Linked DNA regions of Homo sapiens. The protein of the gene in region 1 purifies or fractionates together with the protein of each later gene. This does not show direct contact. Each region holds a gene or a part of one and is shown in the gene's direction. Other genes may lie near its edges. The genes, in order: ASB10, SLC25A3, ARL1, AP1G1 and CPVL.

What was found.
Region 2: the proteins of ASB10 (region 1) and SLC25A3 purify together in Homo sapiens (affinity purification with mass spectrometry, with the first as the bait; one large-scale study listed by BioGRID). This does not show direct contact.
Region 3: the proteins of ASB10 (region 1) and ARL1 purify together in Homo sapiens (affinity purification with mass spectrometry, with the first as the bait; one large-scale study listed by BioGRID). This does not show direct contact.
Region 4: the proteins of ASB10 (region 1) and AP1G1 purify together in Homo sapiens (affinity purification with mass spectrometry, with the first as the bait; one large-scale study listed by BioGRID). This does not show direct contact.
Region 5: the proteins of ASB10 (region 1) and CPVL purify together in Homo sapiens (affinity purification with mass spectrometry, with the first as the bait; one large-scale study listed by BioGRID). This does not show direct contact.

The regions. Positions count from the first base shown.
Region 1 is NC_000007.14:151,184,446-151,188,629, reverse strand, and holds the start of ASB10 (ankyrin repeat and SOCS box protein 10), read left to right. Parts: upstream 1-1,379; 5' UTR 1,380-1,499; coding exon 1,500-1,815; intron 1,816-1,970; coding exon 1,971-2,238; intron 2,239-4,184. UniProt on the Homo sapiens protein: May be a substrate-recognition component of a SCF-like ECS (Elongin-Cullin-SOCS-box protein) E3 ubiquitin-protein ligase complex which mediates the ubiquitination and subsequent proteasomal degradation of target proteins.
Region 2 is NC_000012.12:98,596,685-98,600,202, forward strand, and holds part of SLC25A3 (solute carrier family 25 member 3 isoform b precursor), read left to right. Parts: intron 1-1,171; coding exon 1,172-1,351; intron 1,352-1,837; coding exon 1,838-2,019; intron 2,020-2,950; exon of another isoform or gene 2,951-3,200; intron 3,201-3,270; coding exon 3,271-3,443; intron 3,444-3,518. UniProt on the Homo sapiens protein: Inorganic ion transporter that transports phosphate or copper ions across the mitochondrial inner membrane into the matrix compartment. Mediates proton-coupled symport of phosphate ions necessary for mitochondrial oxidative phosphorylation of ADP to ATP.
Region 3 is NC_000012.12:101,395,178-101,397,773, reverse strand, and holds part of ARL1 (ADP-ribosylation factor-like protein 1), read left to right. Parts: intron 1-1,196; coding exon 1,197-1,375; intron 1,376-2,103; coding exon 2,104-2,134; 3' UTR 2,135-2,596. UniProt on the Homo sapiens protein: GTP-binding protein that recruits several effectors, such as golgins, arfaptins and Arf-GEFs to the trans-Golgi network, and modulates their functions at the Golgi complex.
Region 4 is NC_000016.10:71,732,334-71,735,851, reverse strand, and holds part of AP1G1 (AP-1 complex subunit gamma-1), read left to right. Parts: intron 1-1,144; coding exon 1,145-1,243; intron 1,244-2,692; coding exon 2,693-2,794; 3' UTR 2,795-3,518. UniProt on the Homo sapiens protein: Subunit of clathrin-associated adaptor protein complex 1 that plays a role in protein sorting in the late-Golgi/trans-Golgi network (TGN) and/or endosomes.
Region 5 is NC_000007.14:29,136,526-29,140,043, reverse strand, and holds part of CPVL (probable serine carboxypeptidase CPVL isoform b precursor), read left to right. Parts: intron 1-3,518. UniProt on the Homo sapiens protein: May be involved in the digestion of phagocytosed particles in the lysosome, participation in an inflammatory protease cascade, and trimming of peptides for antigen presentation.

The DNA.
Region 1 (4,184 bases):
AGACCAATGGGGCTGGAGCACCTCAAGCCCATGGTGGGCAGTGGTGGGTCAGAGCTGAGCCCGAGGGCCTGGTTTCTCATCTTCTTTCTCTCTTTTTTTCCTTTTGATCCACCCGGCCCCCAAACAAAAGTCAGTGCCTGAGTACACAGAGACATTTCTCCTTTCTCACTCTCTAGTGAAGAGACCCCATGTAACCACAGCAGGGGAGAGATGCCACCCAAGGTCATCCAGGGAGATGGGGGGGTTGGCATCAAGGACGAGCATGGGGAGTTTCTGTGGCTTGCCTGTGGGTTACGCTCTGTTACTCAGGCACACGTCTGTCTAAGGGAGCCCCCTGAGGGGTGCCTCACACAGCGAGGGCAATCTGTGTCACTACTGTGAACTCCTCCCTTGGTTTGGGAGTGGGAAGGTGCAGGGCTAACAGATGACATTTGGAAGGGCAGGAAATATTATCTGGCACCCACAGGCCTTCCCAGTGGGATCAGAGCCCAGGCAGCTGGAGGCCGATTTGGTGAACAAGAAAGAGCTCAAGGCCCTGGGTTCCAGTCCTGGCTCTGCAACAAGCTCTCTGCGTGATCTTGGGAAATTCACTTCCCTTTAATGCCGAGATGACGGACTGGGCAGCATGGTCCGGGTGGTCCCTTTCCACCCTGAGGTCATACAGCCCTGGGGTGAAGCTCAGGGTTGGCGGGCTCAGGCCTCACTTGTTCTCCTGCCCCTCCCTAATTCCCCCACCCGGCCTGACTGACAGCTGGGCCAGTCAGGGCTATTTATGGCTTTGCCTGATGTTGTGCTCCCCTGCGCCTCCCATGCTGGGCCCCACCCAGCTCGGGCCCAGCACCCACCTGCCCAGTCCACCAGCAACATCGCTGGGAGTCGTGCTGCTTTGGCTCTCCCAGAACAAGCCATGCCCTGGGGAAAGAACTCCTCTCCCCACTGGGGACACCATCTGGGGTGCCTTCCCTCCGCCCCGGCCTGCCGGATCTGGAGGCCCCACTCCCGCCCAGCCTGGGAGCCCCCTCGGCCATCACCACTGCTCTGCCAAGACATGGCCCTGCAGAATGCCCTCTACACCGGGGACCTGGCAAGGTTGCAGGAGCTGTTCCCCCCGCACAGCACAGCCGACCTGCTGCTGGAGAGCCGGGCCGCAGAGCCTCGCTGGAGCAGCCACCAGAGGGGTGAGGGGCATCTGGGGGTTGCTGAGAACCAGGGGGCTGGGCTGACTGCCTCGGCCACAGAGGTCCTAAGGGCTTGAGTGAAAGGAGAAGCCCCCGGCTGTTTCTCCCCGACCTCAAAGCTTGCCCAATAGCCTACACCTTGGCCCAAGAACACAGTCATGTGGAGCCCAGAATAGCTCCTGCTGGATGCGTGGCCAGGTCAGCCTCGGAGCGTGGGACACAGGGGCCTTCTGTCTGTCTGTATTTCCCTCCTGCTCTCTCTCTCTCTCTCTGCCTTTGGCATATACCTCTCCTCCTCCCCACTCCCCTTTCCCTGCCCACATGCTCATGAGTTGGTCTCCAGAAGAGTGCAAGGGGCAGGGAGAGCCCCTCGATGACAGACACCCCCTCTGTGCCAGGCTGGTGGAGAAGCCCAGCAGAGGGTCTGAGGAGCACCTCAAGTCTGGCCCGGGACCCATCGTCACCCGCACAGCCTCAGGACCTGCCCTTGCCTTCTGGCAGGCAGTGCTGGCTGGGGACGTGGGCTGTGTCTCCCGCATCCTCGCGGACTCCAGTACTGGCCTGGCTCCTGATTCCGTCTTTGATACCAGCGACCCAGAGCGATGGAGGGATTTCCGCTTCAACATCCGTGCTCTGAGTACGGGCCGGGGCACTGGGGGCTCTCAGTGGGAGAGAGGGGAGGCTGCAGATGGAGCTCTGGGCTCCCTCTTCCTGCCTCTGCCCACCTCACCCCATTGGCTGGAAGGTCTCTGCCTTCCCTGGGGATCTGAGGCCCACGTCTCCCCTCCCTAGGACTCTGGTCTCTGACATACGAAGAGGAGCTGACCACCCCACTGCATGTGGCAGCCAGCCGTGGCCACACGGAAGTCCTGCGGCTGCTGCTGAGGCGGCGAGCAAGGCCAGACAGTGCCCCTGGGGGCCGCACCGCCCTGCACGAGGCCTGTGCTGCAGGCCACACTGCCTGTGTTCATGTGCTGCTGGTGGCAGGAGCCGACCCCAACATCGCTGACCAGGATGGGAAACGCCCCCTGCATCTCTGCCGGGGGCCTGGCACCCTTGAGTGAGTGACCCCTCACCCCAACCCCCAGTTCCACTCTGAAGGGAAGCAAAGAGGCCTTCTCAGGGAGGATGGGGGAAAATGTCAGGGACCTGGGACAGAGCAGTCCAGGCTTGGGGCGCGGGTCAGGGTGCAATTACTTCCCAAGCCATCCACCCGTTGACCCCATGAACTTTGGAGTGGCCTGGACTTTGGACAGTTTTCTGGTCTCCCAGGGGTGGAGGGAGGCTGTGGCAGGGGTGCAGTTGCATGGCCCGCATTGGGAAATTGCCTGGCTCCATTATGGGGAGGTGGTGTTGCTTAAAATTTTTGAAAACACTTTCTGAGCTTATCCTATGTTCCAGGCACTGTGCTAAGCACAACAGCAACTAAGTCCCTGAGGCCCTGCCCTCAGGGAGCTTACTGTCCAGTGATCCAGACAGGGAGTAGAGGATGGTGGCCCCAGTGAGGACCTGCCTGGGTCCCTCTGGGTAGGGTCTGGTTTTCCAAGACAGGTCTAGAATCTCCATATTGGTAGGGCACCCTCAGATCATGGGCTCAAGGGACTCTCACTAACTAAACTCCCAAGAAACTGATGAATACACCCAAATGTGCCAATGTATCATTTATTGTAGGGAATAGTCCTTTGCAGTGACATAAATAATTGCAACCCAAGTGTAAGGAACGTTGTAGGATGGGATCCCAATTACAATTTTGTGAACTAACTCTACATCCTATAGAGGCCCTCTCTCTACTGACTGCACACCTGCAGGTCTTGTCTCTTGCCTCTGAAAGGTGCCAAATTATTGACCCTGGGGTTCTCCTTTCATGGACCCTCTCCTTCTTGTTAATCTCATCAGCCTCTAGAGGATTCCACAGGCTTAATCATACTATGGTTGAAGATGTGTTCTTTACTAGCGTGGCCCAGTGGAAACCTAATGTGAGCCATATATGCAATTTACAGTGTTCTAGCAGCCCTATAAAAAAAATGACAAATGGCCGGGCACGGTGGCTCACACCTGTAATCCCAGCACTTTGGGAGGCTGAGGCAGGTGGCTTGCTTGAGGCCAGGAGTTCGAGACCAGCCTGGCCAACATGCCCAAACCTTGTCTCTACTAAAAATACAAAAATTAGCTGGGTGTGGTGGCAGGCGCCTGTAATCCCAGCGACTCGGGAGGCTGAGGCAGGAGAATTGCTTAAACCTGGGAGGTGGAGGTTGCAGTGAGCGGAGATTAGATTGCGCCACTGCACTCCAGCCTGGGAGACAAAGTGAGACTTTGTCTCACAAAAAAAAAAAAAAAAAGACAAATATGTAAAATTAATTTTCAAAATGGTGGTAAAATATACATGAAATTTGCCTTTGTAACCATTTTTTATTTATTTATTTATTTTTTGAGACGGAGTCTTGCTCTGCCGCCCAGGCTGGAGTGCAGTGGTGCGATCTCGGCTCACTGCAAGCTCCGCCTCCCGGGTTCACGCCATCCTCCTGCCTCAGCCTCGCGAGTAGCTGGGACTACAGGCCCCCGCCACCATGCCTGGCTAATTTTTTGTATTTTTAGTAGAGACGCGGTTTCACAGTGTTAGCCAGGATGGTCTCAATCTCCTGACCTCGTGTTCTGCCCGCCTCGGCCTCCCAAAGTGCTGGGATTCCAGGCACGAGCCACCGTGCCCGGCCTTTTGTAACCATTTTTAAGCGTACAGTTCGATGGCATTAAGCACATTCATGTTGTTGTTCAACCATCGCCACCATCCATCTCCAAACTTTCTCATCTTCCCAAACTGAAATTCTAACCCCATCAAACACTAACCACCCACCCCACCCTGTCTCCCAAGCCCCTGGCAATCACTATGTTACTTTCTGTCTCTGAATGTGAACACTCTGGGGACCTCACATAAGTGGAATCATGTGGTATTTGTCCTTTTGTAACTGGCTTATTCCACTTAGCATGATGTCTTCAGACTTCACCCAT
Region 2 (3,518 bases), on another chromosome or scaffold:
CAGTTATATCTATTATCTAGACAGTAGCTTTTAAAAAGTAGGAGGTGGGCCAAGCATGGTCGCCCACACCTGGAATGCCAGCATTTTGGGTAGCCGAAGCAGGTGGGTCACTTGAGGTCAGGAGTTCGAGATCAGAACTCAATCTAGCCAACATGGTGAAACCTCATCTCTGCTAAAAATACAAAAATTAGCTGGGCATGGTGGCGTGCCTGTAGTCGCAGCTACTCGGGAGGCTGAGGCAGGAGAATCGCTTGAACCTGGGAGGTGGAGGTTGCAGTGAGCTGAGATCACACCATGGCACTCCATCCTGGGCTACAGAGCAAGACTCAAAAAACAAACAAACAAAAAACACAAAAAAAGTAGTAGGAGTTGGGTGGTAAGAAATCTGTTAAGAATCAGTTTTGTTACGTATTTTTGTTGAAATTTTACCCTCTTAACTATCACTCCAAGACTTAAGTTTGACACAGAAAGCTTTTGTTGAAATTTTACCCTCTTAACTATCACTCCAAGACTTAGGTTTGACACAGAAAGCTAGACCTTAATGTACAACAGTTTCTATTTATAAAAGTAATCAAATGAACAATAATAAACAGTGATAAGCATAAACTAATAAAAGTTATATGAATGTAGTTCCTCACTCAAAATATCTTAATATTTTCAGATGTCAGTTGACCTTGGATAACTGAAGCCACAGAAAATGAACTCTTGGATAAGGGAGAGCTACTGTATTTCTTTTTTTTTTTTTGAGATGGAGTCTTGCTCTGCTGCCCAGGCTGGAGTGTAGTGGTGCCATCGTGGCTCACTGCAACCTCCACCTCCCTCCCTCAGGCTCAAGCGATTGTTCTGTCTCACCCTCACCCTCCCGAGTAGCTGGGATTACAGGTGCACGCCACCATGCCCGTCCAATTTTTTGTATTTTAGTAGAGATGGGGTTTCACTGTGTTGCCCAGGCTGGTCTTGAACTCCTGAGCTCAGGTAATCCACCTGCCTCAGCCTCCCAAAGTGCTGGGATTACAGATGTGAGCCACCGTGCCTGGCAGGAATTACTGTAGTTACCTTTTGTGTAGTTGCTGAAATTTATTATGGAACCCAAACAAAAATAATCATGAGATTAAATTTTTATGTTAGCTGTTTGGTGCATTTAATTTTTTTTTTCTTGTTTTAAATAAAGGTGGACCCCCAAAAGTACAAGGGCATATTTAACGGATTCTCAGTTACACTTAAAGAGGATGGTGTTCGTGGTTTGGCTAAAGGATGGGCTCCGACTTTCCTTGGCTACTCCATGCAGGGACTCTGCAAGTTTGGCTTTTATGAAGTCTTTAAAGTCTTGTATAGCAATATGCTTGGAGAGGTATGTAATTAACTTTAAAATTGAATGTTCCGAGTGTTTAAGACTTTCCGAGTGTTCTTAGATTTTTGTCTGTCTTGCCTTATTTTAGCACTGAAGAAAATGGTCCTACAAAGTGAGCAACTTGTTTTAAATCGTATGCCTGTGTCAGCAGAGACAGGTTGATAAATGTATTTCATTAAATTACAATTCTCCTTTTAATATACTATCTTGTTTTCTAAGTAAGTTGGATTTTGAGTTTTTTAGAGAAGGGCTCTGGGACTCCTTTGCGTAGTTCCGGGGCATGGCATCTAGATATTTTTTGAATATTCATGTTGTTCACATAGTTACGTGTTTTGTTAATGAGGTTATGAGACCACATATATATTCCATATCATCGTGTGTTACTTTATAAAATGTCTGAAGCTTAGTTGTTTTCTAGAACTGTCACTTCAATTGAAAACCAACACAACAGCAATTCACATCCCTTCCTTGTGTTTTGGATTTTAGGAGAATACTTATCTCTGGCGCACATCACTATATTTGGCTGCCTCTGCCAGTGCTGAATTCTTTGCTGACATTGCCCTGGCTCCTATGGAAGCTGCTAAGGTTCGAATTCAAACCCAGCCAGGTTATGCCAACACTTTGAGGGATGCAGCTCCCAAAATGTATAAGGAAGAAGGCCTAAAAGCGTAAGTAAACACTTAAAAATTTATACTATGAAAGTACTTATTTTAAGTGAACTTCATTTTTTTTTGTTTTTTTTTTTGTTTTGTTTTTTTGAGACAAAGTCTCGCTCTGTCACCCAGGCTGGAGTGCAGTGGCGTGATCTCGGCTCACTGCAAGCTCCGCCTCCCGGGTTCACGCCATTCTCCTGCCTCAGCCTCCCAAGTAGCTGGGACTACAGGCGCCTGCCACTGCGCCCAGCTAATTTTTTGTATTTTTCAGTATAGACGGAGTTTCACCGTCTCCATCTCCTGACCTCATGATCCGCCCACCTTGGCCTCCCAAAATGCTGGGATTACAGGTGTGAGCCACCGCACCCGGCTTCTTTTTTTTTTTTCTTTGAGACGGAGTTTTGCTCTTGTTGTCCAGGCTGGAGTGCAATGGCACTATCTCAGCTCACTGCAACCTCCGCCTCCCAGGTTCAAGTGATTGTCCTGCCTCAGCCTGCTGAATAGCTGGGATTACAGGCATGCACCACCACGCCTGGCTAATTTTGTATTTTTAGTAGAGACTCCATGTTGGTCAGGCTGGTCTCGAACTCCTGACCTCAGGTGATCCACCCGCCTCGGCCTCCCAAAGTGCTGGGATTACAGGCGTGAGACACCGCGTCTGGCTGTGAACTTCATTTTTTAGTATTAAGCCTACCAGACTTTTTAAAAAGACTATTATAACATTTAATGTCTATTTACCTGTATGTAGAACATAAACTTGAGAGGTAAAGATAAGTTAATACATGGTTTGAGCCCTGGACTGAGTTTTTTTTTTTTCCCTAGAGTAAGGACCATTTGTCGGTCTACAAATGACTTGATGTTTGGCCTAAACATTTACTATTAACTTTTAGGGAGGGCTTGTTAGTATCCTTGTGATCTATTCACAGTTAAGAATTTCCATGACCACAACATGCTTCCTTAGATCCACCTTTGTGGATGAATCTTGAACTGAGTTCCACTTGTAAACTTCTTGTTTCTTGTGGTTCCAGTAGTCAAAGAAACATCCAGCAACTTTTTTGGTTGTATAGTCAAAGGTGCTTGAGTCATTGGCATGTAAGAGAAATATACCTGCATGTTAGTCTAACGTTCTGATAGAAATGACATGCATTTATGCTGCCATTTGTTACTATCAGGACTCGACTCGTGTGCGGACATTTCTGTTAATAATGACAGTCTCTGATAGATGAGTGTATGCAACTGTGTAAAACAAGTCTCTTGATTTCCTAGATTCTACAAGGGGGTTGCTCCTCTCTGGATGAGACAGATACCATACACCATGATGAAGTTCGCCTGCTTTGAACGTACTGTTGAAGCACTGTACAAGTTTGTGGTTCCTAAGCCCCGCAGTGAATGTTCAAAGCCAGAGCAGCTGGTTGTAACATTTGTAGCAGGTTACATAGGTACGAATTACTTAGAACACACTTGTCTGAAATTATGAACAAATAATCATTTCCATTATTGGCGTTTTTTGAGAG
Region 3 (2,596 bases), on another chromosome or scaffold:
TCCCAGCACTTTGGGAGGCCGAGGCGGGTGGATCATGAGGTCAGGAGTTCGAGACCAGTCTGAGTGACCAACATGGTGAAACCTCATCTCTACTAAAAATACAAAAATTAGCTGGGCGTGGCAGCGGGCACCTGTAGTCCCAGCTACTCAGGAGGCTGAGGCAGGAGAATCACTTGAACCCAGGATGCAGAGGCTGCAGTGAGCCAAGATTGCACGACTGCAACTTCAGCCTGAGCAACAGAGCGAGACACTGTCTTAAAAAAAGAAAAAAAAAAAAGAGACAGGGTCTCCCTCTGTCCCCTAGGCTGGAGTGCAGTGGCACAACCAAAGCTTGTTATAACCTTGAGCTCCTCTCTCTGCTTCCTTTTTTGTTTGTTTTTTAAAAAAATTTTTGTAGAGACCCCTGTGTTGCTCAGGCTGGTCTCCAACTCCTGGACTTAAGCGATCCTCCTGCCTCAGCCCATGTGCATTTCGAATACCCTAGTAATATATAATGAGATGCTATGTTTGGAAAAGTAAATAATTCCCAACTCTACAAAGGCTGCATTGAAGATGGAGACTTTTATACACTGTTGGTAGGGTAACCTTTCTGGAAAGCTGTTCATGCATGTATTCAGTTTATCAAAGCCTGAAAAAAACTGTTCATACTTTGACTCCATTTTTAGAATATTGTGTTAAGGAAACAGATTTAAACAGAAATTTTTGTATAAAGACCCTGTCACTTGGGTTTATCTAATAGTCTAGTGGAAAGACTCTAATAAGAGTCAGATACTAGAAAATAGTTAACACAGTTTATGGTGCATGCATCCATAGTGTAGAGCATATTTAGCCATTTTTTTATTTTGAAAAAGTTGTTGTAGTTTGGAGAAACATGATTTTAATTTTTAGGCAGGGTATGGAACTATATATAAATGTGATCTTAAATGTGTAAATGTATTTACTAAATAAACTCTGAAGTATCTGCAAAACAAAGTACTAGTAGAAAACACCTAAAATGTTAACAGTGATCATATTTGGGAGGTAGGATTATGAGTGAAGCTTCTTTTCTTTATACTTCTCTATATAATTTCTATATAATTTCATAATGTGTAATATATTAATTATAAAATACACGTTTAAAATGTATTTTTGGACATTTTCTAAACTCGAGAGAGCACATTAGTTAAAAGAAATTAAATATTTTCAATTTCATTTAGGAAGAAGAGCTGAGAAAAGCCATTTTAGTGGTGTTTGCAAATAAACAGGACATGGAACAGGCCATGACTTCCTCAGAGATGGCAAATTCACTTGGGTTACCTGCCTTGAAGGACCGAAAATGGCAGATATTCAAAACGTCAGCAACCAAAGGCACCGGCCTTGATGAGGCAATGGAATGGCAAGTATCATGCTTCCAGAAGCCATCTGTGCATTTGTGTGTGCTTGCAGCTATGCACGTCCACGTGTAATTTTTCTCCCGTGTTGAGGATGAAACTTTGATTTACTTAGCAGCTTATTTCATAAGTTCCTCAAGCGTTTTCTCTCACTGGTCTTCAGGTGCATCTGTCTTCTCAACCACACCTACCTGATTACAGTTACTTAGATAAGCAAATTCTTTGCCAATTTTTAGCCTTTTCCCTGCCTCACCTCACCCTCCAATTCCTTATCCTTCAGGAATTAGCTTAAGACTCTCTTCTGAAGAGCTTTTCCTAATGTATCTCTATTCCTACTGCCTAATCACTCACTTAAAGTTAGATGCCCTTGTCACAGATTAGTGACATAGTACTTGTTTTGCTGTCTTGTAAGTTTGATTTGTTCATCTACTCATTAGATAATCACCTCCTTGAGGATTGAGACTAGTTTCACCTCTGAGTCATCCATATGTAGCCCAGAAGTAGTAGTAGCCTGGAAAATAGGTATTTGGTCTTTTTTGAATTTTTCATTCAAATCATAGACAAATTCAAAGCTTAGAGGAACCTTATGGATATCTAGTGCATAACCTCATCTGTGTTAGCTGTCATCATTTTAAGTACTTTGGAATCCACCTCCAATACAAAGTTTATTATAGATGATCATGCTTTATACCTGAAAATTAATTTTATAAAACAGTTCATTTTCTCTTTACAGGTTAGTTGAAACATTAAAAAGCAGACAGTAATTCAGTCCATTCTTCTCCCCTGAAATGAAGACTACATCACCTCTCTCCCTTTGGAAACAGTCAAGTGTACTTCACACTACTAGATGTTAAAACTATATGATTATTGGCATATACTGACTGACTGCAATATTTGTAGTAAATAGGGAAAATAAGTATTTAGTTGGAGGGATAATTTGATCGAATCACCTGAATGTTCTATGTAATGTAAAATATTCTTTTCTTGCTTTCTTGTGTTAAGGTATATATTCTATTTGTATGGAATTCTTATTCAAATACAGTTCTATTAAAGAGTATACTCCTATTGGATGAAAAAAACCTATTTTTGAATAGTAGTTGCAGCTTGTTTGTATAAATACTAAAAAATATCTTAACAGATTTTTTTCCCCTTAAAATGAATTATCTTTCCAAAGATTAGACTCAGTATGAGAGTAGGTGAGGAACATAGTTTGTGTAATATAATCT
Region 4 (3,518 bases), on another chromosome or scaffold:
TATATCTGTACATTGAGAGTGAATCTTCACTCTTGCAACTTTTGGCCCTAGAGAAGACTAGTGTCTCTCTCTCTCAAATATTTTAGAAGTTTAATCTACTTTTAGGAAAGATTTTCAAATGCTAGTTCATACAATAGCTACGTAGTACAGTATGGTTTACCTAGCTTGCCCTATATAGCACTTTTTTTTTTTTTTTGAGACGGAGTCTTGCTCTGTTGCCCAGGCTGGAGTGCAGTGGCACAGTCTCGGCTCACCACAACCTCCTGGGTTCAAGCGATTCTCCTGCCTCAGCCTCCCGAGTAGCTGGGACTACAGGCATGTGCCACCATGCCCAGCTAATTTTTGTATTTTTAGTAGAGACGGGGTTTCACTGTGTTGGCCAGGCTGGTCTCGAACTCCTGACCTCGTGATCCGCTCGCCTTGACCTCCCAAAGTGCTGGGATTACAGGCTTGAGCCACCACACCCAGCCAGCACTTTCAACTCTTATTTCTATAAGCAAGCAAATAAACCCCACCAGCATTCAACAAATTAATACTGTTTGGCTTATCTAGGTCTTTTGCTGTATAGGCTGGTTCTGCAAGTCTTTCCGTTCCTTCTGTCATGTGGAGAGGAGGCTCTGACACATTATAGATTATGCAGGCTTTAAAAAACAAAAGTTCAAGTCTCTGCATCCCAGTTATCCAATCACACAAAAGCCTAAAAGCTTATAGTTGGTGACCAGTATGTTGGTTTGCTATTTTTGGGAAGCTTTTCTTTTCATTTCTTTCTGGCTGTTTTTTAAGCCAAAAGCACCGATATTTTACTTGCATAGTTGATCAGTTACCATTAAGTGAAGTTGCCAGAAGAAGAATTGGTCAGCTTTTGAAAAGAGGTAGGCTAGAATTCCTTCTGCCAGAAAGGAGAATGTGGTTTATTACTAGTTGTCATGATCAAAGAACCGAACAGTGGATTTTTACAAATACCACAGGGAGTCAACTCACGTGCTGTGAATTCCTGATATCTAGAAAACAAGTAGTAGGCAAAACTTAGTAGTAGTGAAATCTGTTGCTTGACCCATCATCTGGGTGTCTAAATGGTTTTTGGTATCTCTGACCTAGCGTTGTGTAATTCTTTTTCTGAAGAGTGCCCTTTGTTCCCCCCTAGACATTCCAGCTGCAGCTCTTGTCTCCTAGCAGCAGCATTGTCCCAGCATTTAACACGGGGACCATCACACAAGTCATTAAAGTTCTGAACCCTCAGAAGGTGAGTAGCACATTTGTAGCCAATATCTGAGCCGAAGTGTAAGCATATTTCCCGAAATAAAATTCTGCTTTGTTTCTTTAGGTTTTTCTGACTCATAGTTAGAGAAGAGATCAATGAAAATGCCTGGTCTAACTTCCTTGCTCTTTTGTAAATAACAAATGGAACCCAGAGACATCAGGTGGCTTAGTGGCATCTTATTAAAATGCAACTTCAAAAAAAGCTAGATTAAAGGTCTGGTTTTTGGGGGTAGGGGAGAAGCTTAGACATTTTAATTTATACACAAGTTGAAATCTGAGGTAAGAGCATTTGTTGAAACCAAATACCTACATTTACTGCTACAGTTATTAAGTATGAATAGAAAAATAGAGGCATTTTAAATGAAGCAGCCAAATGAAAAATAGCTTTAGAAACTGAAATTAAGCAATATTTTTATTATCTCTTCTCAAAGAAATAAGCTCACCTTAATAGTAATCAGTTGGTTTTCAGTTTTTGAAAATGGTTCAGAGAATTTCTTTAATAGAGCTCTACTAGTTGCTCATAAGTAACAGTATACTTTCTTTCTCTTGTAACACTTGCCTTTCCTCTGCTATTCACTATATTTTGAGCATCGGCCTCTATAGTACAAGCACAAACTCCTTTGACCATCTGATACAGAGAGTAAAAAATGTCTTAGTGCATTTGTATTTGAAATCTGCCATACAAAAAGTGTCTAATTGAGTTCTCTTAAAACTACTGCTGTTACCTGTGAGTTAAGTCATTTTTTAAAATTTTATGCTTTAGGAACAAAAGGTCATGTTCACATTTACTGTAGGTTTTTCAGATAAAGCAACAGTGTATCTGAATGGAGAGCGTACGATGAGTATATGTTCACCTCATTTTTTAAGAGACTTGGATACAAGGTTTGAATCTTTTTGAAAAGGACTCAGCAAAATGTTACTAGGAGAATGCTCCATGGTGGCTCACGCCTGTAATGCCAGCATTTTAGGAGGCTGAGGTGGGTGTATTATCTGAGGTCAGGAGTTGAAGACCAGCCTGGCCAACATGGTGAAACCCCGTCTCTACTAAAAATAAAAATATTAGTCTGGTGTGGCGGTGAGCCAAGATTGTGCCACTGCACTCCAGCCTGGGCAATAAGAACAAAACCCTGTTTCAAAAGAAAAGAAAAGAAAAAATGCTCCCAAGGAGTTCTGTCCTTTTAATGCAGTTCAAGGATTAAAGCTAACCGTGTATTCTGCAGATGCGCTTTCTCAACTTGGTGGCATGACATTGTTAGCTTCTTGGCTCAAGCCTAGAGTACTGGGTGTTTTTTGTTGTTGTTTACCTGTCATTCTTAACAGACAGCTTTGCTTTAAGTTTTGACCTCTAAGATTAAAAGTCTATTTGTGGACCGGACAGATTCTGGAGATTTCATTTCAGTATATAATTTGCACTTCTCTTTTCCTCTTATAGCAACAGCTGCGAATGCGGATCAAGCTTACATATAATCACAAGGGCTCAGCAATGCAAGATCTAGCAGAGGTGAACAACTTTCCCCCTCAGTCCTGGCAATGAGGGTTTGGCACCATTCTCATTCTTTATCCCACTCAATCAAAGGAACTCTGGGAAGGAGGTTGTGATTGCTGGCAAGTCCCCCCCAACTGTACCACGGGCATGAGGAGCTGAAGAGAACTGCTGAGGAGGATTTTCCTAAAGTTACTGCTGACCTTGAAGCATTGTTAAAGACTAATGTCCTCTCCTCCACTGTTGAGGCTGGCTGCTTCTGGAGGCTACTTTGCACTCTTCCTCTTCTCCTTTTTCCGCACTTCTCCACCCCTCCCACATTTACAGCCAGAATCAACATTCCCTGGGCCCCTGAGGAAATAAGCAGCTGGTCTGGAGGAGAGGACTGCAATCCATGGCGAAAAAACACTCACTTTGTCTCTGCAGCAAAGAGTTGCCCCTTCTTTCTACTGTTGTTTCTCTGTGGACTGGGCAAGGTGGGGTATTTATTCCTCACTAGCTGGGTTACCATCTTCAGGCACTTTTAACATCTGGCATTCGGAATGGAAATGTAATAATGGACATTAGGGAGCCCTGCCTTTTTCTACTGGTTCCCCCAATGTTTGAAAGAGGCATTAGGCTCCTGGTAGCCTTTTCTGTGCATTGCTGTATACACACAGACACACACATGTATGTTTGTTACCAAGAACTGGTCAGACCTTGCGAGTTTATTTGTAAACACTGGACAGATGGAGTTAAAAAGAGCTTTTGTTGAGATTTGGCATGAAGGATATGG
Region 5 (3,518 bases), about 120 Mb from region 1:
CAACAAGAAATGTAGAACGTGAAATAAAGATGAAGCCATTCTGAGTCATGTGCAGACCGTGGGAAATATCTCCCTGTATTTGACAAAAGGGGAAATGGCAGCCATAGCTAATTCTGAAGATGAAAAGTGTTCCTGCCTGGGTTACTTGATGAAGAATATTATTAGCAATCAGCAAGTCAAGTGGAAATAATTTGTTTTGTTTTGTTTTCTCCCCTTCTAACTATTGGCATGTTGGTAGAATTAACTTGGCTGGCAGGAGAATGAACCGCCTGTGCCGTTGGGACACAGGAGATTTCTGAGCTGGCAGACTGCACACTCCATGTAAAACCATGACTCTTTCCACCATTCTTGTGTACACGTGTGCCTGAACATTGGTGTCTGCAAAATCCGAGACGTCTGTTTCAGAGAAAAATTGCTGGAAGCCACTGATTTAGAATTTTAATAGGATTTTTAAAAAATCTGTGCTTAAAAAACATGTAATTTAATCAGTGTTGTAGCCCCCCTGCCCCCCCAAGAATAGCCTTTCTTAGGTTTCTTAGGTTGTCTTACGAACACTGACAGAAATGTGTAGGTTCAGGGCACCTAGAGCAGATGTGGAAGTTCTTTCATTAAGGTAGCCTGCGTGAATCATCCCTGTGACTCAAAGCCTGAAGCAGTTTTAGCCTGATCTCCTTGGCTGCATTTTTAGAATCTTAGACATTCCAAGCTGAAAGGGATTTTGGGAATTATATAGTCCATCTAATCTCCAGAATTTACAAATGAAGGAACTGAAGTCCAAGGGGAGAAGTGAATTGGCTTGCCCAAGGATATACCTGTTGGCAAAGTGAAGGCTGGAACTTTTGACCTTGTACATTCAGGAATTGTGGCAGAGCCTTTCCTGCTCGTCTTAGAATGTAATGTACTATAGGGAGCCCGCAGCCATCCTCTACGGTCTGGCTTTATTGTCTCTTTTCTCCCTATTTTTTAGTCTCCTTCTACCTTTTCTCAGCACACCTTTCAAGTGGGATGGAAGTTGAAACCCACTCAGCAGAGAATATGAGAAATACATGTGTAATGACACAAAGTTAGGTGTGTTAGCATTATGTCCAGCAAAGGAGGACACATACCCAAAGGTTGGGAGAAGTGGGAAGAGGCCTCTGAAATATTTGGCCTTGTGCTGAATGAGTCGAAGGAGGGATCAGGGAAGAGGTACCCGCTGGATTAGCTGCTGCCAAGTGCCCGTGGCAGCTCAGGAACTTAGACTCTCAGCAGTCTCTGTTCAGGAGATGGGAGGGACAAAGCGCTATCATTGGTAAGAATACAGCAGTTGCTCAGAAAAAAGGACTGTCCATCATACTGCAGCTGCAGAGTGGCCTTGGGTATATAGAAACATTGTTAATGTTCTGTTGGGAGCATCTTAGACTGATTAGCAGCAGAGCTGATTTTCACTCCCAGGGATCTGGGTCTCTCTCTTTCTCGGTTAATGGCACCACTGTCCACCCACCCAGCCATCTAAGTCACATCTGGGATCATCCTAGATTCTTTGTTCTATTTCAACTCTAATATATAATCACAAGTTTCTTCCAGTTTTACTTTCTTCTTCTTCTTCTTATTATTATTATTTGGAGACGTAGTCTCGCTCTTTTGCCCAGGCTGGAGTGCAGCAGCGTGGTCTTGGATCACTGCAACCTCTGCCTCCGGTGTTCAAGTGATCCTCCCACCTCAGCCTCCTGAATAGCTGGGATTACAGGCACATACCACCAAGCCTGGCTAATTTTTGTATTTTTTTGTAGAGACAGGGTTTTGTCATGTTGGCCAGGCTGGTCTGGAACTCCTGACCTCTGGTGATCTTACCCACCTTGGCCTCCCAAAGTGCTGGGATTACAGGCGTGAGCCACTGCTCCCAGTCAACCTTCTAATTATTTTTAAGTCTGCCCTCTCCACGCTATTATTACTAGTTTCCAGCCCTAGTTCAAACTCCTGTCATCTTTATTCTAGATTATTGTGAAACATATTAACTGGCCTTCCTGCCTGCTGTCTTTCTGGCTTAAGTCCATCCTTACATTGATGTTCATAGTACTCTTTTCAAATTATCAAGCCCTTCAGTAGTTCCTAGTCACTAGAGGATAAAGATTCTTAGCATATCTAGAAAACTCTCCCTGATCAGCTCTCTACTGACTTCTCTAGATTCCATCCTATTTCTCCACTTCCTACTTATGCTTTTCTCCTGCCTCTGTATTGGTTATCTATTGCTGCATAACAAATTTTTAAATGCTATAAATTCTATGACCTCCCAAAATAGTGATATAGGCGTTAAGAAGAAATTATTTGGGCAGATAGTGAGAGTACAGGAGTCCTCGGTAAGGTTTTCCTTTTAATGAAAAGCAGACCCCAAATCATTTTCTTTTCTAACAAAGAGCAGCCTGCCTATAAAATTGAGCTACACACATAGACAAGTAAGCTGGAAGCTTGCACAGGTGAATGCCGGCAGTTGTGCCAATAGGAAAAGGCTACCTGGGCTAGGCATGTTCAAAATGGCAGCTCCGTCTTCCCTTTTCCTTTCCAACCATGTGTACAGTAGGGAACAGACAGTAATGCTGGCCAAGTGGAAAGCCCATTTGCTTAATAAGGTTAGGGTGAGGTGGCCAGCTTCCCTGCATGCTATGTAAATGTCACACCTGGTCCAGCCAATCTGTGGGCCAATCTTTGTCTATATAAATCAGACACCACCTCCTCAAGCCTGTCTATAAAATCTGGTGCACTCCACGGAGGGCCAGATTTCCCATTCAGATGCCCCTCTCTTGCAAGAGAGAGAAGTGTTCTCCTTTCTCTTTCTTTTGCCTACTAAACCTCTGCTCCTAAACTCACTCCTTGTGCGTGTCCATGTCCTTAATCTTGGCATGAGATGGCGAACCCCAGGTATTTACCCCAGACAGTGATGCCACCTCAATAGGAGAGACAGCAGCACATGAGGGAAGTATAGAGGGATTCATTTAATTAGGAGTTAAAGTCAAGGTTGGAAACTAGTTTGGAGGTTTGCAGTAGTCCAGGCAAGTCACAATAAAGAACTGGATTAGGCCATGAGAGTAGATTTAGAGAGGTGAAGGTGAATTTGAAGAACATCTAGGAGATTCAGTTGGTGATTGATTGGCTGTGGGAATGCAGGGCCAGAGAAAAATGGATAAATAAAGAATACATCCTGGATTTCTGGCTTTAGTACTTGAGTTGATGGGAGTATTTCCAACCAAGATGAAAAATAGGGAAGTAAGGACAAGTTTAGGGAAGGAGATAATAAGTTTAGTTTTTGAGTTCTTCTTAACTACTTTTGATTTTTGTCAATATAATAAAAGTAATGTTATAATTCTCATGATAAAAAATTTTAGTCTTCTTCTCCCCACCTCCCCATCCTTCTCTTATCTCTGAGACCTCCTCTCATACTTTTACCTGTCTGTTCTAGCCTTTAATTCCAAATTTCCAAGTAATCTGCCTAATCTGTTTCTTGATTTATTGGTTTTAGGGTTACACCTTTTATTTGAGGT